Regions from separate parts of the Homo sapiens genome. Here region 2 is reported to be linked to region 1. Evidence: microRNA targets listed by miRTarBase, many of them from high-throughput screens and not tested one by one. Region 1 holds a microRNA gene; the other region holds the end of a gene's coding sequence.

Evidence for each region. The annotated mature microRNA hsa-miR-6750-5p reads CAGGGAACAGCUGGGUGAGCUGCU and lies in region 1 at 4,876-4,899, opposite strand. An mRNA with a match to its seed (bases 2 to 7 or 8) in the 3' UTR can be bound and repressed. Matches are read on the target gene's strand: a 7mer-m8 pairs with bases 2 to 8, a 7mer-A1 pairs with bases 2 to 7 and ends in A, and an 8mer does both.
Region 2: miRTarBase lists HIRIP3 as a target of hsa-miR-6750-5p. Seed matches in the 3' UTR shown: 7mer-m8 at 1,568-1,574.

Annotation. Positions count from the first base shown.
Region 1 is chr11:64,893,534-64,910,122 of GRCh38, forward strand. It overlaps MIR6750 (microRNA 6750), which reads right to left and starts at 4,904; the gene lies at 4,830-4,904. ATG2A (autophagy related 2A) reads right to left here. Exons shown (of 41, transcript NM_015104.3): 13 at 16,507-16,589; 14 at 16,148-16,391; 15 at 15,738-15,834; 16 at 15,458-15,617; 17 at 14,215-14,357; 18 at 13,992-14,131; 19 at 13,722-13,906; 20 at 13,132-13,282; 21 at 12,801-13,000; 22 at 12,580-12,660; 23 at 12,209-12,315; 24 at 12,030-12,122; 25 at 10,057-10,127; 26 at 9,755-9,831; 15 more. The coding sequence ends at 1,440. It overlaps MIR6749 (microRNA 6749), which reads right to left and starts at 8,922; the gene lies at 8,854-8,922. RefSeq lists an enhancer at 6,788-6,917.
Region 2 is chr16:29,986,677-29,994,474 of GRCh38, reverse strand. HIRIP3 (HIRA interacting protein 3) reads left to right here. Exons shown (of 7, transcript NM_003609.5): 4 at 1-569; 5 at 667-835; 6 at 918-1,016; 7 at 1,105-2,145. The coding sequence ends at 1,268. It overlaps TAOK2 (TAO kinase 2), which reads right to left. Exons shown (of 16, transcript NM_016151.4): 16 at 6,082-7,798. The coding sequence ends at 6,495. Among named protein-coding and RNA genes, the nearest start is that of HIRIP3, 5.0 kb to the left of the region's middle. RefSeq lists enhancers at 367-867, 868-1,368, 3,056-3,643.

The sequences.
Region 1 (16,589 bases):
GATCACAAGTGCGGTTCGAAGGGCAGGAAGCCCTGGACTGTGCCCGGGCAGGGTGGGGCGGGTCCAGGAAGCATCAGGCTGGGCCCCATCTGCCTCTCCGGGTGGCATCAGCACCGAGTCTCCACAGCCCTGTCTCCTCCAGGGCCTCGCCCTCCTGGTCTCTTACCAGCCTGCTGCCCCAGCTGTCCGTGGGCAGCCAGGACCCCAGGGTCCCTCGGGACAAAGCTTCTGCTCTGTTCCCAGTACCCAGATCTCCCCCACTCAGAAGGGGCCACAGAGCAGGGCTGGGGGACCTTTGCTAACCCCAGAGGCCTGCGGAACCTAGCAAGGTGAGGGTTCCCTGATTCCCAACCCGAGCCTTGGTTTCCCCATGGACCCACCCACCTCTGTGCAGCGCCACTGGGAAGCAGGGCAGGGAGGAGCGCGATGGGAGCAGCTCACAAGAAACAAGATGTGTGGGGGGCAATGGGCGCTCCCTGGTCCTGTGTAAAGCTTTGTGCAGTGAGGGTTGGGATTCCGGCTGCAGCGCTGCTCCAGCACCCCTCCCCCCTCCAAGTGCTGGAGCTGGGACCCCAGATCAGAGTGGAAACCAAGGGGCCAAGGCCTGGGCCACCCCAAAAGCCCCCACTAGGGATGGTGAGAGCAACATCTAGAATGCCTCAGGCTCAGCCTTCCCCGAGTGGCCTCAAGTGACAACCAGGCAGGGTCAGCTGGGCTCCAAGGACCATCCCTCCCTCCCCTGGCAGCCCCACGTAGCTCCTGCCACATCAGGAGTGGGGCTGGAGTGGCAGCCTCCTGGGAGGGGCAAGGCAGAGCCCAGAGCCAGGGGAAGGCGTGCAGGGCTGGGTGCCTCTGGGTCCCCCTGTGCCCTGATCTGCTGGGCAAGGCCAGGAGGCATGGCGACCCCTGGTGGTGACATGGGAGGTGCTGGGTGCAGAGGTGGGATCTGGGGCGGGGCCAAGGTCAAGGCTGAGGCCAGGGTTCACAGGGACAGAGGATCTGAGAGGGGGGCTGGCGGTGGGCAGTTTATTCCACTTCATGCAGACACTGACCCACGCACTCACGGAGCTTAAAAATAATACATCGAACCACACGGATATCATCCCCTCCTCCCCCCAGACACAGAAAGACACTTGGCTGAGTGGGATGGGGTCCGAGGGTCCAAAAGCCTCCGTCCTGGGAGAAGGCAGCAGTGTGGGCCCAGGTCGGGGGAGGGGCAGTGTCCTTTCTCCCCGGAGGAAAAGTGCAGAGCCAGGGCTAAGGCCCCAAGGCAGGGAGGCCCCCCTCTCACAGCAGATTGGCAACGGGCAGGCTGGGAAGGCGTCCTTCACAGTGGCCATCCCCTGAAGGGCCAGGCCGGGCCGGGCCCGTGGGCTGCAGCTCTTGGGAGGCTCAGGAGCATGGTGGGCAGCACCCTCTGGGTGCCGGGCACCCCAGGCTCAGTCTTGGGCACTGTCCGAGCGCCACTTGAGGGCGTGGTCCTTGTGGGCGTCGGGGACAATCTGGTTGCGCATGCCCCCGAGCAGGCTGGACGTGGCCTCCGTGGCCAGGATGAGCGGCTTCACCACAGTCGGGGGCAGCTGGCGGATCACGCCCCCCACGGCGCCCGTCAGCCCCTTCTGCTCATGGCCCCGCGATGCCACGTCACAGATGGTCTGAGCTGTATCCAAGATGCCCTGTGGAAGCCAGAGGTCAGGGCGGGGTCTGTGTGAGGAGATGGGCATGGGGGACTGGGGCAGGGCGGGGGCCTGGTCACCTCTCGCACTGTGTCGTAGGCCTTGGCCACACCCTCCCGCAGGTCGGCAGGCTGCTGGCCCCTGCGCAGCCTCCGCGCAGAGCGCTTATCCTGCAGGGAGCGGGAGACGGGGGCTGCCGGGGACAGGATGTCATACACGGTCTCAGCTGTGGCCTGGGGGACATGGGAGCACTGGATGAGGACAGCTGGCTGGGGCACACGTCAGCCCCAGGCCCCCAGGACAGTCTGAGACCCCACCAGCCCTCAGCCTCCCTGCCTGTCACTGTGCTGGCCTAGGGGGTCCTGCTCAGCCTCACTCCCCACTTCCTCCCACTCTTCCTCCCCTTCCTAGGCACCTGCCACTCTGCTGAGGGAACCTAGGAACGTGGGACTCCTCAGGGGACTTTCCTAAAGTCTTCTCAACCCAAACCTCTCTTCCTGCTGACCACCACATTCAGCAGGTTCCACATGGCTGCCGCAGCTGCACGCCTGAGACTGACCGCTCCTTGCCTGGCCCCCCAGACGCCCCTGCCAGATGGTCAGAGGCCCATCCTTCCTTCTGTCTGCCAGATCCTCTGCCCAGCATCTCACCTGGCATCACTCTTTCCCACCTGACTGAACACTCCCGGGGGCTCCCTGGTGCCCATGCATCCCTCCCACCTCCCCTGGAGCCCTGCCCTCTGTCCTGTTGGGGTCTGAGCTTGCAGGTTCCAGAATGCACCATGCACCTGCACTCACCCCTTAGCCGCCTAGGACCATCGATCCCCTACAGAATTCATCTGACAACTGCCCACGAGACTGGCTCCCCAGCTTCCCTGGGGTCCTTCTGGCCTAGCGAAGCGTATGGCCTGAATGAACCAGGGCAGCCTCTGCGCCTCAGATTCTTAGTCTGCAAACACAGCCGTCCTCCACCCCCCTTTACAAGACATGCCATGAGCAGGAGACACAGTGGGCTCTGAAGGCCTGGGGGGCACTCCCGCTCCTGCATGGGAGCCCCTGTGGGCCTCGGGAGACCTGGCTTGGAGGTCCCAGGCAAGTCACTTAGCCTCTCCGTGGCTGTTTCTCTATAAAGTAGGGCTGTCATACCCAGACTGCCCACTCTGAGGAGCTTTGAGGACAGAACCAGGGAGCTGTGGTGCAGAGGGCTCCAGCTGCTCTGTCCTGCACAGCCCAGATACAGGGCACCCACTCACCTGGATAGCCTGTACCAACCGGTTGCTGAGTTCCAGGGCGGCAGAGGCTGTGGATGAGCCAAAGGAGGCAGCCCCTCGCTGCAGCCCCCGCATGAGGCGGCCATCCTTCCTGTACTGCTCAATGGGCAGCCACAGCAGGTCCCGGAACCCTTGGACTAGGGGGAAGGAGCGCTCAGAGACACCCGAGGCTGCCCTGCCCCCACCTCCTCCTCTTATTCCCAATGGCAGCTTCTAGGTTGCCCAAGGGTAAAAGCAGTTTCGAGGGCTTCCAAACCTAGACACTCACAGAGCTGGACAACCGAGTGCATGGGGCCCACGCCTCCCAGCAGGCCGGGCAGCTGGTTCTTGCGGATGTCCTGCAGCCACTCGTTGAGGGCATAGCCCAGCACCTTGTCCACACCCAGGAGCCTGGCAGGGCAGGGAGGTGAGGAGGCAGAAGGTGAGGCAGAGCCACACATGGAGGGATTGTGGGGTCAGGAGGACTCAGTACCCCTGTGGCAAGTACTGTGGGCACTCTACCCTCCCTGTGGTCCCACCCAGTCATGTGCAGAGGGACTGTGTCCTTTTTTTTTTTTTTTAGATGGAGTCTTGCTCCGTTGCCCAGGCTGGAGTGAAGTGGTGCGATCTTGGCTCACTGCAACCGCCTCCCAGGTTCAAGCAGTTCTCCTGCCTCAGCCTCCTGAGTAGCTGGGATTACATGTGTATGCCACCACGCCTGGCTAATTTTTGTATTTTTAGTAGAGACGGGGGGGTTTCACCATGTTGGTCAGGCTGGTCTCGAATGCCTGAATGTGTGAGCCATCATGCCCAGCCAACTGCGTCCTTTTTACAGAGGAGAAACTGAGGCCCTGAGAAGGGTGATGACTTGGCCAAGGCCACACAACCAGTCAGGACCAGAACAGAAGGAAGATCAGGGACCCTGGAGAGAGGCTGGGGTGCTGGGGACTCACCCGTGCCTGCAACAGAGCCGCTTTAGCTTCAGCTCGGAGCAGTTGAGTTGGGCCAGGCCGATGAGGAGGCCAGCAAAAGTGCCCTGGGAGAGGGAGGGGGTCCAGGTTTACCCAATGGGACTCAGGGAGCTAGCTAGCCCATGGGAGCCACTGGAGAGCGCCCTGGCTGCTAACAGTGCCTGGATGCAAGACCTGGCCCCCAGAGGGACTCAGCCACAGCTGACCCCACATGGCCACCCCATCCGACCGCCCCACTTACCACCTGGTCCATCGTGACGTGCTTGCCATGGTAATCCAGCCAGATGGGGACCTCAGACGTGAAGCGGAACTCTCTGGGTAGGGGAGCAGGAAGAGGGGGTTCTTTGCTCACTGGCCTGGCCCCCAGCAATCTGGCCCAGGGCCCCCCACCCGCAGTCCAGCAGCCTACCTGAAGTAGATGGGCTGCTGGTCAGGAGGGGAGGGGCTGTGTCCACCTCCTGGGGCCTCCTGCGAACCAGTGGTCTCTACGCCTTCGGCCTGCCCTTCCAGGGGGCTGCTGGGCTGGGCTCGAGTCTCGGGGCGAGCTAGGGGAGGGGAGGTCACAGACTGGGGATGGGGCCAGGAATGACTGGGAACCTGTGCTGTCCTGGGAGGCAGAAGGCCCAGACGCTCCCCTCCCTGGCCCAGCCTCTCACCCTCAGCGGAGGTCTCCCCTGGGACCACGGGGTTGATGCCGGCCACCAGACTAGTGAAGAAGTCCTTGAGGAAGAAGAGGGCATCCTGCAAGGGAGAGGTCCAGATGTGGATCAGACTCAGAGGCCTGGAGACAGTGGGGTCACCCTAGGCTCTGCCCTCACGTAGACCACTCACCTGGTCCACATTGAGCCGCAGGGGCATCAGCGAGACGCGGAGACAGCACTCAGGCCCACCCAGGTTGGTAGTGGGGGCCACATGCAGCGCTTTGATGGTGAGCTGGGAGCAGAGGGTGAGTTCTGGACACCTGCTGGGCCTCTGGGGCAGCAGCTCACCCAGCTGTTCCCTGACAGCTCACCCAGCCACCCTGCCTCTGAACACGCTGTTCCCTTCGCTAACACAGCCCCTAGCTCTGCCCTTCTCCCAGGCTCACAAACAACCTGGGTGTTTGTGTGGGAATGCGTGTATGTGTGTGAATCCATGCATGCGTGAAGATGTATCCCCAACGGTCTGGTGCCCTGCCCCAGGGTGGATGGTGCAGGTCGCTCATACCATGTTAGAGTGGGCACGTCGCGGCATCCGCTCACTCGTGTGTAGGTACAGGAACTTGTTGATCTGGGAGGAGGCGAGCCGGTCTCGGACCTCCAGCTCCTGCACGATGAACACCTGACGGGACAGCGGTCGCTCCTCCAGCTCCTGGCTGGGGGCCGCAGGGCCTGTGGCTGGCTCCGCTGGGTACACCTCGTGCTGGAAGCTTACCTGTGGGGTGGACAGAGGCCTGGCCAGGTAAGCAGGGCCCCAAGAGGGAGGGAAGGGCTGGCCCCAGACCCCTTCTCTATTCTTTTTTTGAGACAGAGTCTCACTCTGTCGCCCAGGTTGGAGTGCAGTGGCGTGATCTCGGCTCACTGCAACCTCTGCCTCTCGGGTTCAAGCGATTCTCCTGCCTCAGCTTCCCCAGTAGCTGGGATTGCAGGCATGTGCCACCACACCCAGCTAATTTTAGTAGAGACAGGGTTTCACAACGTTGGCCAGGCTGGTCTCGAACTCCTGGCCTCAAGTGATCTGCCTGCCTCGTCCTCCCAAAGTGCTGGGACTACAGGCATGAGCCACCATGCCCGGCCCCTACCCCTTCTCTATTCTATGCCCAGCAGGGACCTGCCTCTCCCTCCAGACCTGACCCTGCTCTTGCTTCCCATGCCAGCTGCACTGGTCTCTGCCCCTCAAGGAGTCCAGGCCTGTTTTGCCTTCAGGACTTTGCTCTCGTAGCCCCTCTCCGTGGAGAGCCTTCCTTCCCCCTCTTCCTGCACACCCGCTGGCTGGCCATCAGGTCTCAGAGAGGCCCCTGGCCCCCTGCTCTGACACTCATCTCCCGCAGGTTCTTGCAGCACAGCCCACCAACCCGAGCAGCCTGAGGCCCCTCTGCCCTTTGCCTCTAGCGGCTCCTTGGGAAGCCCAGCACTGGCCTGGCTCACTCTGAGCAAGTGGGACCCCCCTGCCCCAGGCAATTTCCCAGGCCCAAACCTTGAACCCTCTGTACCACTCTCTGTATCTCACACACCCCATCCGCAGCTGAACCTGTGGCCAGCCCCCATCTAGGCTCTCCTGAACCTGCTCACTAGCCCTCCCTGATTGCTGCAGAGCCCCACCCCACAGAGGCCTCTCCTCAAAAGCCCTGAGGGGTTCGTCTCTTGTAAGACTCAAAAGAAACATTCTGGGTCGCTGGTTATGCACAGGCTCTGCTGCTCCTGGAAATGTCAGGATGCTTCCAGCTTCCAGCATTTTTTTTTTTTTTTGAAACAGAGTCTTACTCTGTTGCCCAGGCTGGAATGCAATAGGGCGATCTCAACTCACTGCAACCTCTGCCTCTTGGGCTCAAACAACTCTCCTGCCTCAGCCTCCTGAGTAGCTGGGACTATAGGCACACACCACTGCAAATGGTTAATTTTTTTTTTTTTTTTTTTTGGTAGAAATGGGGTTTCGCCATGTTGCCCAGGCTGGTCTCAAACTCCTGAGCTCAGGTGATCTGCTCTCTTCGGCCTTCCAAAGTGCTGGGATTACAGGCATAAGCCACCATGCCTGGCCCCAATTTGCGGCTTTCACGCTGTCCTCTCTGCCTGAAAACTCTTCCTGGCTCACATCCCCACTTGTTCAGGTCTTTGTTCAAATGGTGCCTTCAGAAGAGGACTTTCCAGACCCTCCCCAGCACACCTGTCTCCTCCACCCCTGCAGACTCTCCCCTGAGCGCTCTTCACCATCGGACACACTCGATACATCTTGGTCCCTGCCTGGCTTCCTCCACTACAAAGGCAGGGGTTTTCCTCTGCATTAGTCATTGCTACACGTGACATCGAGAACAAGGCCCGTTGTTCTATGACACACACGTGTAGTAGGCACTCGCCACCCCACTCACCTTGCTCAGCTGGATCTCCATGAGGACATGGTGCTGCCGCCCGCTGCCCCCCTGCGTGCGCCATGAGTTCTGGGGCCGGTTGGGGCCAGAGCAGCGGGAAGGGGAGCTCCTGGGACCTGAGAGGCCAGTTCTTGCCCTGGGAAGAGGGACAGGGGCCAAGCTGACTCAGAGGAACCCCATTCCCTCCCCGTCCTCAGCGGGCCTTTTAGCCTGGGACAAGAGACCCCCGCTAGCCCCAGTCCTGGAAGGCAGGCGGGATAAGGAAGGATGAGGAAACTGAGGCCCACCTGGGGTGGATGGGGCTCAAGGTCTCCAGCTGCTGAAAGTCAGACCTGGACCAGCCTGAGCCCCAACCTTCACCAGCTGCCACCTGCACCCGCTCCTCCTCACCTGTGGCCGGGGTGGGGGCCAAAGTCTCGGCCCCCATAGAGGTGCCAGACGAGGGAGACCTCACGTAGCACCACCCGAGTGCTGGGCACTGGGAAATGGGCAGGTGCCCGCAGCAAGTCCGTGCTGCCGATCGGCCGTGAGAAGTAACCGTCCCTCACAACGATGGGGCCGGGATGCAGCTGTGTCACCACAGGCTCCCCATCTCGGGGCTGCAGGGAGGCCAGGTAGACGTGTGACACAGATGTTCGATCCAGCCCAGCTGCCCCCAGCCCCAGCAACCTGGCCTCACTTCTTTTTCATTTTTTTTTTTTTATAGACAGGGTCGGGTCATGTTCGGTCACCCAGGCTGGAGTGCAGTGGCACAATCACAGTTCACTGCAACCTCTGCCTCCTAGGCTCAAGCGATCCTCCATTCTCAGCCTCCTGAGTAGCAGGGACTGCAGACATGTGCCACCATATCTGGCTAATTTTATTTTTATTTTTTGTAGAGACGGGGTCTCACTATGTTGCTCAGGCTAATCTCTCATTGCTGGACTCAAGCAATTCTCCCACCTTGACCTCCCAAATTGCTGGGATTACAGGCGTAACCTACCATGCTTGGCCTCCTCCCTGTTTTTGATGAAAGATGACACTCCTGGGTTGCTATCACCCGAGTCTATGCCTGAGTGGTCTGTCCAAGAGGAGCCTGAGAATGCCAGGCTCCTGCCAGCCCTGCCTCCTAAGACCTGGGTGAGTTCAGACATTCCCACTGGCCCTTGCAGCCACATGGTTCTCCATCCCTCTTGCTAACTGCCCTCTCCTCTTCCTCCATCCCTTGAATTTCCCAGTCCCTCTGCCCAAAACACCAGGCCTCCTCTTCCTCTGGAAATCCCCCTACTCCATCAAAGCCCAGCATCAGGGCTGCCTCCCTAGGGTGGCACAGACCTAGCACCACCCCCGAGGTGATGGCAACCACCTCCTGCCTGCTTCTCTCACCACGGGAGCTCCAGATGGCCAGGCAACCACCCCTGAGTGTTCCGTCCCCGCTCCAAACACACCTGCCTGGACGGCAAACTGGTCCATCCCTCCCACCACGCACCGGGATGCCCAGGCCGGGAGCATCAAGGATGCAGAACTCATCACTGTCCAGGGTGTCTCCATCGCCCTCCTCTTCCCTTTCATCTTCCTTCTCCTCTGAGCATGACCCTAAGCTGCCAGCAGGGCCCCCGACAGGTGGTGAAGGGGGTGGGGCCCCACTCCGTTCACCTGGGAATAGGTAGACGGAGATGGGCGACGCCTGAGGGAGGTGGCCACCTATAGGAGAGAGGCCAGTTTGGAGAGGCGCCCACAGTGGGTGCCTGACTGTGTCTGCTGTCCCCACAGCACCCCCACTTCACCTGAAGGCTGGGCCAGCTCCCGTAGGCTGCGCTCGGTGTCCAGGAGGGCGTCGGCCAGGTCACGCTGGTTGATGAGGGCCGTCTCCACTGGGGGGCACGAGGGCAGAGAGGCAGGACTCTCCGAGAGCTGGGCCAGGCAGGGGAGGAGCAATGAGTGAGACAGGACAGAGCTCCCCCAACCCCAGGCCCGAGGGCCATGGCAGGGGAGGGGCCTGGCCGAGCTCTGGTAGCCTGTGTGGCCAGGCCTCACCTGTACCTTCTGGCCGGCGATCTCCGTGGGGCTGGGGGGCCGGGGTGGGGGGTGCAGATCGCCTGTGCTCATTACGTACTGGAGCAGGTTGACCAGCAGGGCACAGGAGTCGGCACAGCTGTGCACGTGTACCACATTGTTGGAGCAGCGCAGCTCGAATAGTGGCTGGCTCTGCAGGGGCGGGGTGGGGGGAGCAGCTATGTGAACACAGGGGCCACTGCCTGCTGGCCCCACCCGCTCGCTGGGAGGGCACCGCAGTTCTGATCCTGCCACAGGCAGAACAGGGATGGTCTCTCCTGGAGTGGATGACCTGCCCAGTAACTCCACTGAACAGATGAACAAACTGTTCACCCAGAGGGTGAAAGGGGCTTGGCCCAGGGCCATCCAAGGAAGCAGGAGTGTGCCCACCCACCCTACCCCACTCCCCGTGAAGGGCTCTGCATGCCTAGCGAGGCAGGGCAGGTTATCTCCATCTTACAGGAGATGAATCCGGGGACCTACAAAGGTGGCTGATTCCCAGGGCCTCGCTGGTGCCCTGGCTGCCGCGTCCTCTGGTGGCAGGGCTGAAACCCATTCATTCATTCAGCCAGCATCAAGGGACACCCCCACCAGGGCTGTACTATGGCCCTTTGCAGGAGGGGCGCTAACTGCAGCCCAGGAAGGGCAGGCATGAACTGTGTCCGGAGCCCAGGCACGTGAGGGAGCAGCAGCCCCTGAAGACTCCCTTGGCCCCTGCACCTGCTGTGGCTCCAGGAGCCAGAGTGACAGCCTCACTCACCAGTTTGCCCTCGGTGCTCCCTTTCCAGGTTTTAATCACAAGTTCCAAGAGGTCAACATCCAAAACACAGACATAATCTGCAGCAGAGGCGAGAGAAAGGTCCTGTGGCCCCCTTCCACCCGGCCCCGGCCCCAGCACCTGGGGGAAGGATCCGGTTGATCCAGGTGTAGTCCCTGCTGTGCGGGCTACGTGTGGGAGCTAAGGACCCGGCCAGCAGCTGCGGGGAGACACCTGGCTGCTCTGGGTGTGGCCGGGGCGGTGGTCCCTCAGAGGGGAGGGAGCCCAGTCCCGGCCCTGCCCACCTCGCCGCAGGTCCAGGGTCTCCACCTCACACTTGTCGGACAGGTACAAGGCGGAGTCATCGAGGATGAACCTGGGGGGGAACAGGGCTGAGAAGGGCCCGGGCACCGCTGCAGGGGGCAGCTCCACGGGAGCCGAGCAGAGGGGTCCCAAGCCCACAGGAGGTGGTATGGACAGGCCCCTCCAGCCTCAGCGTTCCTGCCTGCACAATGGGGAGAAGGCCCAGACAGCAGGCAGTGGGAAGCGGGCAGCACTTGCAGCTCTCAAAGTGCCTGCAGTTCCGACACCTCAATGGGGCCTCATGACAGTCCTGGGAAGGGGTGTCCATTTTTCTCCCTGCTGCATTTGTGGTTCTTCTAAAATAAGTCCTTATTTTTGGCTGGCGCGGTGGCTCACGCCTGTAATCCCAGCACTTGGAGAGGCTGAGGCAGGCGGATCACCTGATATCAGGAGTTTGAGACCAGCCTGGCCAACGTGGTGAAACCCCATGTCTACTAAAAATACAAATATTAGCCGAGCATGGTGGCGGGTGCCTGTAATCCCAGCTACTTGGAAGGCTGAGGCAGGAGAATCTCTTGAACTAGGGAGGCAGGGGTTGCAGCGAGCCTAGATCACACCACTGCACTCTAGCCTGGGCGACAGAGTGAGACTCCATCTCAAAAAGAAATAATAATAAGGGCTGGGCATGGTGGCTCATGCCTATAATCCCAGCACTTTTGGAGGCCAAGGCAGGCGGATCACGAGGTCAGGAGTTCGAGACCAGCCTGACCAACAAGGTGAAACCCTGTCTCTACTAAAAATACAAAACTTAGCTGGGTGTGGTGGTGGGTGCCTGTTGTCCCAGCTACTTGGGAGGCTGAGGCAGGAGAATCGCTTGAACCCAGGAGGCAGAGGTTGCAGTCGGCTGAGATTGCGCCACTGCACTCCAGCCTGCTGACAGAGCGAGACTCTGTCTCAAAAAAAAAAAATAAATAAAAAAGTCTTTATTTTAAGGGTAACATAATGAAAACTCCTTTAAGATATTTTAGAATAAAGAAAATAAAAATCATTCATCATTCCTAATCCCTAATTCTGAGAAAACCACCATACACATCTCCTTCCAAACTTTCTCTGCAGCTGCACGCCGAGACATATAAACACCCCTTCATAAACTGATTTTAAAACGTACGCAGTCCTGTATCCAATGTTATTTGAGTAAACACTGTACTGTGGCATCTTTCTATATTTTTTATCTATCTATCTATCTATCTATCTATCTATCTATCTATCTATCTATGTATTTATTTGAGACGGAGTCTCGCTCTGTCACCCAGGCTGGAGTGCAGTGGCGCAATCTTCGCTCACCGTAACCTCCGCCTCCCAGATTCAAGTGATTCTCCTGCCTCAGCCTCCCAAGTAGCTGGGACTACAGGCGCCTGCCACCACCCCCGGCTCATTTTTGTATTTTTAGTAGAGACGGGGTTTCACCATATTGGCCAGGCTGGTCTCGAACTCCTGACCTTGTGATCTGCCTGCCTCAGCCTCCCAAAGTGCTGGGATTACAGGTGTGAGCCACCGCACCCTCCATCTTCTTATATTTTGAAGGGATTCTTCAGCTTCACCTTAATCCCTGCATGGTTTTCTACCTACTAGGTGGGCCATGCTTATTTGCTCAGGTTGTGAGGCTTGTGATTTAACTGATACGTTTTGGCTGTTTTAACTTATACTCCATAAGCATTAAATCCCACCTCTCTTATTCGCATATCCTAGGACAACCCTCAGACATGAGATTACAGGTCAGAGAGCACAAATGCTTATAAGGGTCTCATCAGGAGGCTCCAACTGCCCTCTAGAAAGGCGGAAACAATCCACATTCCTGAGAATGAGACTATCACCCGGGTGTACATTAAGACCGAGAGCACCAGAGGACACACAGCTGGCAGGCAGCTTCGGCCCGGCGAGGGTGGGATGGCCCAGTGTGGGGCGGCCTGCATACCTGAGCAGGAAGGTGGAGGTGTCCATGATGATGTTGCTGGAGAGAGTGAAGGTCTCCGCGGTGATGAGGACACGCACTGGGAGGTAGAGTGGCCTGGGGGTGATACTCGGGCTGGGGCCGGCTCCTTACACCTGAGAGCCCATCCCCGTCCCCAGCCCCTGGCCCACCCAGCCTGGTACCTATAGTCCACAGAGCAGGAGAACAGGTGTGTGTGCAGGATGGTGATGACCGTCGGGGGCAGGTAGCCCAGCACAGGGTCATCCAGCACGTCTAGGAACTCCAACAACTTCAGAGGCCAGGGCAGGAGGAAGCAGTGAGGATCAGGTGGTGTCCTCCCTCCTCTAACCCCTCCCTGTCCTGGCCCCTGCCTGGCACCTCACCTTCTGCCCACTAGCTGTCTGCCACACCCCTTGCCCAGGAGCTCCGGACAAGGTCAGCTGTGGCCCAGTCCATGTTCCTCCCACCGGCCTCCTCCCACCTAGAGACCTGCTTGCCCAAAACAGAAGTCCAGAGTCACTGGGCCATGTGGCTTCCCACCACCCACGCTCACCTGGGAATGCCAGCTCTGCTCGGGCAGGGCCATGTAGTGGCGCAAGGTGGCTTTGTGCAACCGCAGTGTCACCAGGAACTCCTGAGGGTGGGGGCGCAGTCAGGGCAGTGGGGAGGCCAGCCCCACCGTGCACTGGGGCCTCACCGCGCACTGGGGTCCCACCGCACACCGGGGCTGCAGCCCAGGCTAGCAGGAGGGGTGGATGGTAGGCAAGCCCATACCTTCACATTCTTGTGGGGGTCCAGGTGGATGCGCACAGCAGTGGACAACATGTGGGGTCCCCGGCCCTGGCCCTTGCGGCCCGAGGCTCCCCGCTCGGTCACCCCTTCCTCCGATGGGTAGATGGTTGGGGCCAGCTGAGCCGGGGGAGCGAAACTGGGAAGGTCCAGGTGACTGGGCAGCGGGTAGTCATCCACGGCCGCTGGGGAGGGGTCTCATGAGCCCCCTGCCAAGCCAACTGGCTACCCACTCCACCCAGGGCCCACATCCGTCCTGAAAGCCCTCCACCCCCAACCCTGGACCCCAGTGGTGACCTGCCCCCAGGCCTCACACCTCGGTGGTAGAGTGTTGCCTTTTCAGCTTCCAGACAGAAGTAGCCAAGTCCTGGCTGGCCACAGTACTGGGAGACGCTGAAGAGGGTACCGTGCTCCATGTCCAGCACCAGCTCCCCGTGCACAGCCTCCAGCCGCTTCCCACCCTCATCCTGCAGAAGGAGCACACAGCCTGGCTTCCCCAGCTGCACTCAGCAACCCTCAAGCCCTCTGGGGGTTGGCGGCTCCTGGAGCCCTGGCCTAAGGGGGTCAGCTCCAGTTTCCACCATGGACGCTGCTGGAGGCCCTGGATGGCACTTGCCTCTTTTGCCAGGAGAAAAATAATCTCTGCCGGGTCTGCCCGCTCGGAGTGGGAACAGTGGGTGCTCCATGCCCATCCCGACCCCTAGCATGGTGCTTTACATACAGCAGGGGGTCAGAAGGAGCTGATGGGCTGTGACAGGGTGGGCAGGCTGGCGTGGGTGGGCTGGCGCTGCCCACTCAGGCCTCCTGCTCTCCACATTCTTGACCTGGAGCTGCTCGCGCTGGTCTTGCTCTGCCGCCAATGGGAGCTCTGAAGTTTGGGGCCCGCCTGCCCGGGGCTGCACTCACCTTGGTCTCACAGAGGGCTGTGATCCGCCCCTTCAGCACTGTCACCAGTGTAGAGAAGGTGCTCTGCAAGTGAAGACTTGGGGCCTCAGGGGCAGCGGCCTGTGGGCCACCTGATGCCCCCACTGAGAAGAAGTGGGCATCCTCGTCATCCGAGTCCGAGTCTGGGGTGAGATCAAAGCAGTTGGCTGGGAAGGAGACCGCGAAGGGCTAGCCTGGCCCTTCCCAGACCTGGGGGTCCTCCCTCTAGCCCAGCGTTAGCACCTCTCATACCCAGCTTGAAGGCTGACTTGCACATCTTAAAGCTGTCGTGCCAGAAGCCTGAGGGGCCGGGGAAGCCCGAGGGCTGGGCGGCGGGGTCGGGGGTGGGAAGCAGATCTGCAGGCTCCCACATGAGCAGGTCGTTGTTGATCCTGAGATAGGCGGGTGGACAGCAGGTAAGGGAGGCCAGGCCCACCCAGTGTCCAGTCCCGCCCTGCTGGCCCCGGGTCTCCACCTGTTGTAGATGCTCTCGTAGACCTCCTTGCTGGGCAGAAAGATGTGGACACTGGGCAGGATCACTTCCAGGCTGCAGCGGGACAGTGCCAGGGTCCGGCTCTGGAACGTCCTCATCTCCTCAGGGTCTCCAGGGATCACCATCTGGACAGGGTGAGGTGGAAAGAGCAGGAGAGTCATCTTAGAGACGCTGGCTGGGGCCTGTCTCTGGTCTCAGTCCTGCCCTCCTGTCGTTCATCATTCATTCATTCATAGGAGCCCTTCTCTACTGGGGATGCATGATAGCCGTACAGATACAGTGCTGATGGCACACCTGTGCTGTTCTAAGGGCTTCAGGTATGTTAACTTCTTTCATCCTCACAACAGGCCTGTGACACAGGTTATGGTTAGGCTGGGCGCGGTGGCTCACGCCTGTAATCCTAGCACTTTGGGAGAGTGAGGAGGGCAGATCACTTGAGGTCAGGAGTTCGAGACCAGCCTGGCCAACACGGTGAAACCCTGTCTCTACTAAAAATACAAAATTAGGCCAGGTGCGGTGGCTCATGCCTATAATCCCAGCACTTTGGGAGGCTGAGGTGGGTGATCATTTGAGGTCAGGAGTTAGAGGCCAGTCTGGCCAACATGATGAAACCCCGTCTCTACTAAAAATATAAAAATTAGCCGGGCGTGGTGGCACGCGCCTGTAATCCCGGCTACTCAGGAGGCTGAGGCAGGAGAATCGCTTGAGCCTGGGAGGCGGAGGTTGCGGTGAGCCGAGATCATGCCACTGCACTCCAGCCTCGGCGACACAGCAAAACTCTATCTCAAAAAAAAAAGAAAAAAAAAGAGAGAAAGACAGGTCATGGTGCCCATTTTCCAGGGGAAGAAACTCATCTATAGGTAACTCTTCAAGGTCAGATAACTCCCCAGGGTGATGACACAGTCACCAAGTGGCAGAGCCTGGCCCTTAACTGCCTTTCTAAGTGTACAGTGCTGATCCACGGGTCAGGTGGGGCAGGACCTGATCTTTCCAATCGAGGACCCATGCTCCCCAGGGGCCTGCCCTCACCAGTGCCGTTTCAGAAAGACTCTCTGACTGGCTGGAAAGAATGGAAGAGCCGAAATCCTCACTGGTGTTGGGTCAGCTCATGCCCACCCCAGGTGGTCGTGCTGCCCTGGCCCACAGCCACACAGGTGGCTCCTACGGCAGGAACCCGGGCGGTGGGCGGGAGGGGGTCCTGGGAAGAGGTGGGGCCAAGTCTCACCTCCTCTGTCTCATACATGGTCCTCTTAGAGGAGAAGGGCGAGGGCTCAGGTTCCCGCAGCTCACAGGGACTCTCCACTGACAGCTCCAGTTCCTCTCCCTTCTCCGGGGCCACCTCCCACTGTGTGCTGCTGGACTGGGGGTTCACAGTCACCACTACCCTGCCGGGGCACAGGCCTGTTACTGGCCTGCAGGGCCCCCGGCACCCAGTTCCAAACTGGCCCCCTGCCACCCCCAGCAGAACCCTCCTCTCCTGGGCCCAGTCCAGAGCCCCTACTTACTGGGGCAGGAAGTACTTGCGCCCAGTGCTCTTGGGGTCCAGGGCTTTGGAGACACGCAGGCAAGGGACAGGTGGCTTCCCTCCATCTTCATAGATACCTGGAGGGGGATGGGGAATTAGGGGGGTCATCACTGCTGCCTTTTCCTATTTCTTCCCCAATGCCCAGGTCGGCTCAGAGCTGTGCCCCCGACTCCACACACACCTTGGTGGGCAGAGAAAGCCAGAGACAAAGGGTCCACCCTACTTGTCGGTGAGGAGGCCGGGGACAGGCAGTGCTGGGACCCCAAGAGCTGGTAAAGGCCTGGGCCAGGGACTGCTCGGGTTGTGACTGGGCCCCTTCCATAGCCCCAAGCCCATCTCTCCCAGAAGCCAGGCCTCTTGCCCCAAGTTCTGTCACTCGGGGGCTCTCACCATGTAGGTCGGAGCAGGTGAGTTCCAGGTGGGTGGGGACTGGGGGACCAGGCCCACTGCTAAGCTCTGACCGGAACTGGGGCTCACTCAGCTCCAGCCGAAGCTGCTCAGCCCGCACGGCCTGGCCCGCCCAGGGGTCCGGCTCAGGCCGCAGGTCGGCAATGGGGAAGCGCAGCCGCAGCGTGGCCCGGGGTGCAGAGAGCCGAAATACCGTCTGCTGCTCCATCGCCGGCAGGGGCTCTGTCTGCAGGAGGATTGGGGGTCAGAGCAGCCGTCGGAGCCCCTCCCACTGTGACCAAGAGCCGAAGGACCCAGGCCCTGCACCCACCCCCGGCCTGGCCCTGGCAGGGGCCTCTCACCAGCAGGCCGGCTGGAGGCTCAGCAGGTACGGTGGCCAGGCGCAGTAGGGCGGCCAGCCGGTCCAGGGCCCCCAGCTCCACGT
Region 2 (7,798 bases), not on the chromosome of region 1:
AACAGGAGAGTGAAGAGGAGATCCTAGCCCAGAAGAAAGAGCAGAGAGAGGAGGAAGTGGAGGAGGAAGAGAAAGAAGAGGATGAGGAAAAGGGGGATTGGAAACCCAGAACCAGGAGCAATGGCCGGAGAAAGTCAGCTAGGGAGGAGAGGAGCTGTAAGCAGAAAAGCCAGGCAAAGAGGCTCTTGGGAGACTCAGACAGCGAGGAAGAGCAGAAAGAGGCAGCCAGCAGTGGGGATGACAGTGGGAGAGATAGAGAACCCCCAGTGCAGAGGAAGAGTGAGGACAGGACCCAGCTTAAGGGTGGGAAGAGGTTGAGTGGAAGCAGCGAGGACGAGGAAGACAGTGGGAAGGGGGAACCCACAGCTAAAGGCTCTAGAAAGATGGCCAGACTGGGCAGCACCAGTGGTGAGGAAAGTGACTTGGAGAGGGAGGTAAGTGACAGCGAGGCAGGGGGAGGCCCCCAGGGGGAGAGGAAGAACCGCTCTTCCAAGAAGAGCTCCAGGAAAGGCAGGACACGAAGCTCCTCTTCCTCCTCAGATGGAAGTCCAGAGGCCAAAGGAGGGAAGGTGAGGGTGAGGAGGGGTGGGAGGCCACTATTAGGGAAGAGGGAGACCCTGCCTCAGGCCCAGCAGGCTTGGCCTTCAGCTGCTCTTTCCTTGCTAGGCTGGCTCAGGTCGCCGTGGAGAGGACCACCCGGCTGTGATGAGGCTGAAGCGCTACATTCGGGCCTGTGGTGCCCATCGAAACTACAAGAAGCTGTTGGGCTCCTGTTGCTCACACAAGGAGCGCCTGAGTATCCTCCGGGCAGAACTGGAAGCGCTAGGCATGAAGGGTGAGGCCCGGCGTGCCCTGGGGGCTGCAGGAGAGGGCCTTCCTGCTGGGGAGGAGAGAATCACCAGCTTCTTCTGCCCCAGGTACCCCTTCCCTAGGGAAGTGTCGGGCCCTGAAGGAGCAGAGGGAGGAGGCAGCTGAGGTGGCCTCCTTGGATGTTGCGAACATCATCAGTGGCTCGGGTAAGGGGTTTCCTCTCACTGCCCAGGAGCAGATAGGTGGGGTTGGACCTTCTCAGACATCTGATCTCTCGTTTCCCCTTTCCCCTAGGCCGGCCACGCAGACGTACAGCCTGGAACCCTTTAGGAGAAGCAGCACCCCCAGGGGAGCTGTACCGACGGACCCTGGACTCAGATGAAGAGCGGCCCCGTCCCGCACCCCCAGACTGGTCACATATGCGTGGCATCATCAGCAGTGATGGCGAGAGTAACTGAGCTCTGCCACCCCCAGGAGGGACCCTTGATACATGTACAAAGCATACATAGCACCCCTTGCCCTGTGTCTGTGGAACAGAAGCAGCTTCCTTCAGAGAAGACTGCAGCTCCCAAGGACACAAGCTGTTGGGATGCTACTTCTCAGCTTCACGCTGTCCCTTTAAGGTGTTTATTTTTTAAGACTCAATAAAGGAGTGTTTTTAATCACCTCATCAAATTTGGTCCCCCATTCTCACCTCCTGTATTTTGGGCCAGGAAACTGAGCAGTAGTCACTGCCTCCACCTCCTCCCCTGGCCTGGTTCCCTTTAATTTCCCCCGGGTTCCTGGAAGAAGTCCCTGCCTCCAGACCCTGTCATCCAACAGCCACCAGACCCTTTTGGAGAAGGGTGTGTGGCTCCTGTGCTGCCCGCCTACCCCGTGGCCCCTCTGCTTTTAGCCTAGTCTGATAACCTAATGCCCACTTGGGAGAGGGATAGAATGACTTGAGGGCAGCCAGTGCTTAAGCCTTCTCCCTTATGCAAACAGCCACTTTGTCCATGGGCTGTTAGCCTCAAAGGGGTGGGGAAAAGCCCATACCTCCTGGGCCAGTCCTAGCCCTCTAGGCCTCTGGCTACAGGCCCAGCCTCTGCAGTCACATGAGGTCTCCACTGAACTCTGGCTGCTGAGGCTTGCGGGAAGATTCGTGAGCATGGAGCTGCCTGGGGTCTGTGTGGGAGGCAAACCTAAGAATCTTTGAAGTCAAAGCAAAGAAAACGAATTAGAGGTCAAGGGGTTGAAGACCACCTTTGAGATCCGAGATCTGGTCACACCTAAAGTCATTAAAATCACTGAAATGTTTAGATACACAGCCCAATAAATTCTCTTTATAAAACACAAGCAGTACTATTCAGTGGCCACTGAGCAGTCCTTCACGCACACCAAAGACAGAAGGGTGAGTCCTGAGATCTGTTAGAATAACCAACAGTTTATTAAAAGCTTGCCTGGGGCTCTGTGCCAGCCCCACAGCTGAGAGGGGCTCCCACGACTGCCCCCCAGGCCTGGGAGCAGCCCCTTCCAAGGTCCTTCCCTTGTTTCCCCGCCCCAGCCCTGATCCCAATTAAAAAAAAAAAAAAAAAGATAAAGGACAAGACGGCACAGGACGTCAGACAGTTACGGGAAGAGACCCAGGCATCCTGACCCCAAGACCCCATCCTGATCCTTCCTGCCAGTAAGGTGGCCTCTCATTCTCCCTGCCTCAGGCCCCAGACCTGCTCTGCCCTGTGGCAGGTCTGAGGGCCTCACTGTGAGGGTAGTATAGTTCTCTGAATATAGTATGTCTAGACCCACCCTTCCCCTCCCCCAGGGGACTAGATGAATATTTGACACGCACATCTCCCTCCTTTCCTAGGTGGCGGAGGGAGACCCCTGGCACCATGGTAGGGAGGCGGGGCTCCCAGGCAGCCTTGAGGCACCTATCGCCAAGCTGGCCCTGGGCCACTGGCCAGCCCCAAGAAGCTCATGAGATGAGGAGGTCTGAGGGGAGCTGGAGCCTACATCTTGTCCCCTACCCTTGCAGGGGCCTCCAGCTCAGTGCCCTCCAGGGTCAGGCTCCACCCACCCCTGCCCTGCCCAGCTCATCTGCTCCTCCCCGCTGCACCTCAGGAATAGAAGTGGGAAGAACCATTGAGGATGTGGGAAGCGACACTGGTGCTGCGGCTCAGGGGCCCGGGCACCGCGGCAGCAGGGGGGCCCACATTCTCACTGCCACTGCCCCCCGAGGCTGCCCGCCGCAGGGGCTGGGGGCTGTTTCTTAGCAGCAGCAGGGCTCCGCCACGGGGTGTCCCACTTTGTGTGGGGGGCCCCAGCCAGTTTGGGGGGCCTGGGGGAGCCAGCAGAGACGGCTGACGCCAGGCTGGAGGGGGCATGCCTGGTGGAGGAGGGCCATGGCTCCAGTGTGCCCCAGAACGGGGAACGGGACGGGAGGGCCAGGCTGGGGCAGGGGGTGGAGCAGGATAGCCCTGGGCAGCAGCTTCAGCCGGGATGCCCCCCAGAGCCATGCTGGAGAAGCCCAGCCTCATGCTTTCCGCATCGAAGGCCTCGATCTCACGGGCCTGCCGCTCAAGCAGACTGCGGATTCGCTCGGAGCGTCCTGTCTGCAGGGCCAGCAGCTCCTCTTCCACCTGGGGCATCCGGAACAGAGGTTAGAGTCGGGGGCAGGAGCCCACCCTCCCTCCCCAGTCCTGGAGGCTGGGCCCCTTACCCGCTGCTCCAGCAGTGCCCGCCGCAGCGCGACCCTCTGCTCCAGCTCCCGCAGCTCCCTCTCGTGCTGGCTCTCTGTGCGGATCTTGATCTTGCTCTGGTAAGCGTTGAGCAGCTCCAGCTCCTGTTGAAGCTGCTGCCGAAGGGCCTGGAACTCTGCCTCCTGGGTCTCATCAAGCCGCAGCTGGGGAAGATGAACAACCAGTTGTAGGGATCTCCTCCCCCACCCCCACTATCCTCCCCTGCCCCAGGTAGGCCTGGGCCCTAAGGTTTCAAGAAGCAGCGGTCTCAACATCTATCAGAATGGAAGATGGTCATACCCTGTGGCACAGCAATTACACTGCAGAATCTATCCCCCAGGTATACTTGCACATGTGCTCGAGGTGTTCACGGAAGCGTTGTGATAGCAAAATACTGGAAACAACCTAAATGTCCACCAATAAGGGATGGGTTAAATAAATTATGGTACAGCCATACCATGGAAAATTCTATGCTGTAAAAAAAATGAGACAGGTGTACTGACAGGGGAAGATGTCCAAGAAATATTAAGTGGAAAAAAGAAGTTACAGAAAGTAAATGTAAAGTATGATTCCATCTGTGTTTAAAATTCATATAATTTTTCAAAATGTGCACTGAAAAAACACAAAATACAGTTAATTATTAACAAGTTACCTGGGAGAGGTGGGACTGGGTGAGAGAACAGCCTTGGGTGGGGCGTTTCCACTCTCCACCCTCTCCGCACATTTTAAGTGGCCCATTCCAGTGTTAGGTGTGATCATTTTTTTAGAACAGCAACTTTCAAAATCCTCCAGAAGTCTGAGTAAATGGGCTTGAGGGCCACACTCACTTTAATCTGCACCCTGTTTACCCATTAAACTAACTCAGGCCCAGGAAAAAAATAATAGCCACTCTTTTCCTTGGTGGTTCTTGGGAATAGGCACATGGCTTTGTCAAGACCTTAAGAAAATACTAAGAGAAAGAATAAAACCACTGAGGAGAATATGAAATAAATCATTGTGGAGAACACGAACAGAGGGAGAGTATGTGAGTTTCCCAAGTAAAAAAGCCCCAGCTCTGTGCATGCCCTGCACCGTCCATTTCTCTAAAGCAAAGTACAGAGCCTGGCCTCTAGCGCACTCCCTCCCTGGACCCCAGGCCTCACCGCCTGTGAGCTGAGCATCTCTGAGATGGACTGGTCATACTGCTCCGCCAAGATCGCCAGCTTGCGGGTCTGCTCTTCCTTGAGCCGCTTAAGGAGGCTCTTGTGCTGAGCTTTGGGCGTGGTCTCCAGCAAGTGTGCTCGCAGAGCCTTGTACTGCCGAGTCTGGATCTTACACGTCTCCTGGAACTGCTTCTTGATCTGCAGCTCCTTAGACTATGCAGTGGACGGATCAAGGGGAGATGGGGGCAGCGGGGAAGAGGAGGAGGAAGAGGAGGAAGAGGAAGAGGAGGAACAACCAGGGGAAATGGGGAGAAGAGAGAGAAGAGGAGAGGAGACAGAAGCAGAGACAGGGAGAGGGAGAGAAACAGAAAACATGTTAGACAGAGGGGGTGGGGGGAGCTGTATACAGACAGACAGACATGGAGAGGTGGGATCGTGTTGAGAGAGATCAGGAAGGTCTCGATGGGCAAGAGATGCAGAGAAGACAAGAGGTTCCAAGAGCACGTGCACGGAGTTGGGTGCGATACCCACGAGAAAGAACATCGGAGTTACTGGACAGGGAACTGAGGATCTTGGAAGCTCTGACCAGGCAAAGAGGGAGAGACTGTGACCTAGAGACAGAAGCACGTGAGCAAATATGAGAACGTGCACGAGAACAAGCGAGAAGAACCAGTCACACAAAACACCCATGAAGAAAGCAACACGACTAAGGACAGACACAGGAAGTCCCAGGTCCAGCAGCTCAGGGAGGAAGGCAGGGAAGGAGGAGAAGCACCGAGCTGAGAAATGGGTAAGAAGGGGCTGCCCCATTTTGGGCCGCAGAGGAGAAAGGGGCAAAGGAGGTGGCCAGAAAGGGCCTGACAAGTTCAACCGGCCAGCAGCTACCACCCTGACCAGATCCGCATTCCAGCCCGGCCCCTCACACACTCAGCTCCCACTCCAGGCCCACACTCAATCCTGCTGCCACAGCCTTCATACTCCGCCTGGTTGCCCCCAGCTCAGCACCCCCTACTGTGGAGGGTCTGCAGCCCCGTCCCCCAACCCACTAGGGTAATGCCTGATGCAGGAGAGCAATTTGGTCCCCTGCAGCCATGGTTGGGAGAAAAGGCAAGGGATGAGGAGACCAAGGGCCTGGAAACTAAGACCTCTGGAAGGAACCCGCAAACAGGCGCTCTGTGGGACCAAGAAGTTCGGTGAAGTTCTACAGGGGCCCAGACCCCAGAGCCGGTGGTGGTCATGGTGCAATGAAGCTATGAAGGCAGAGAGCATGAGGCTGGAGGAGTGAGGGGGCTGAGATAACGGAGATGGGGTGAAGAGGTCATGGAGCCGGGCCGAGGGTCAGCCTGGGGGCATACCGGGGAGGCTAGGCGGCAGGACAAAGCAGACAGAGGCAGCCTGGGCCAAAGGCACAGTTCCGCTCAGATATTTTATTTGTGTTTGTCTTTTTCTTTTTTTGGTGGGGGGAAGGGGACAGGTTGGAAGGGAGACAGAAAAACAAAATCAAAGAGGAGAAAAAAAACATGACTCTTCCCACCCTCCACCACCCCTGGCCCCAGGCCTGAGTCAATGAGGGTGAGGATGAGCACACACAGCGGGCGAACAGCAATAACTTAGGGGAGGAGCGCCAGGAGAACACAGAGTGACTGCTGGACTCCACAGCTGAGGAGGCTGCCTGTCTAGAGGTCCGAAGGGCTGGGCCTGGGGTAAGTGAGCAAACTGAGGAAGGTGGGTGAAAAGAGAGGACTAGGGACTGGAGAAACTTCACTGAGTCGTGGGAGATAAAGTGCTCAATGCTCTAGATTTGGGCTGGAAGGGCTGGAGTCAGCTACCTCCAGGGGGGCAGGGCCCGGGACTGGCGGGTGCGTGACCTCCGCCCGGCTAGAGTCCCTGGCAGTGGCTGGCGGGAGGCAGGGGGCCCTAGCTGGCGCTGGCTGCGTGGTAGTAGCCGGGGGATTCGGGTGGGCCGTTCACCCCGAAGCAGGCCCCAGCTGGCCAGTGTGTGGATGGCCCACGGGGGCAAGTGGGATGCTAAACCCTGGCTGGCCCGTGCCAGACGCCAGTTCCAGCCCTTGCACAGGACCCAGACCCTTGCCAACAGAGCTAATGGGTGTTGGGTGGTGCGGGGATTACGCCGCCGGGGCCCAGGGACGGGCAGGCGGCTGCGGAAGCCATCCTTGTTGGTTTTGGGGTACAGTGCAAACAGACCCCGGTCCCCCACAGCCCCACAGCCCTGCAGGGCCCGGAAGGCCATGGGTGACAGGCGCAGCAGAACCCGCAACCAGAGTCGAGATATGCCCCGGCGCACCCGGGGGCCCTGCTGCCGCACCCATCTGCCCCCCGCTGCCATAGCCACCAGAGGTAGAGCTAGGCCTGGCCAAGCTAAGAGCCAGGCAGCTCCAAGGCCCAGGGGAACACCCATGAGGCCTCGGCGCCAGCTCAGGCCCAGGACGGCCCCCAGTGCGGTACCCTGGGCCAGGAGTAGGAAAAGACTGGAGGGCAGGTGCAGGGCTGTACAAAGGAGCAGGTAGGAGGCCCCCAGACCCACCAGCCCCACCTCAAGGGCCAGCAGCGCTGCCTGCAGGCCACCCCCACCCTGGGCTGCCAGCAATGGAAGCAGCAGCAGCAGCAGGAGGGGCAGGAGGCCAGAGGAGGACCCCACTGCAAAGGAGAGGCCGGCCAGGAGGCCATGGGACAGGAGTCCAGGGAGCTGGCTGGCAGGGCAGGGCCTCAGGTGTGTTGGAGGGGGTTCAGGAGGGATGTCGGGGGAAGGACAACCATCTCCAGGATCCCTAGGGGTCCCAATCGGAGCCCCCTCTTCCTCTTCTTCCTCCTCCTCAGGGACGGGAGTCAGTGCTGGGCCCTGGACCCAGCCAAGCTCAAACTCCTCATCCAGAAGACTCTCATCCTCCTTCCCCCACAAGCTCCATGTCCCAGCCTCCTCCTGGCCAACAATGCTCCTCTCCTGGGGTACAAGGGAGGGCACCCTAAGCTCCTCTATCTCCTCAGGCAGACCCCAAACTTCCTCATCAACCAGGCTCCCATGTTTTTGTGGACTGGGACTAGGGGCTCCTGATTCTTCCCCCAGAATCCTCTGCTGCTTGGGCTCCAAAGTGGCCCCTTCCTTTCCCA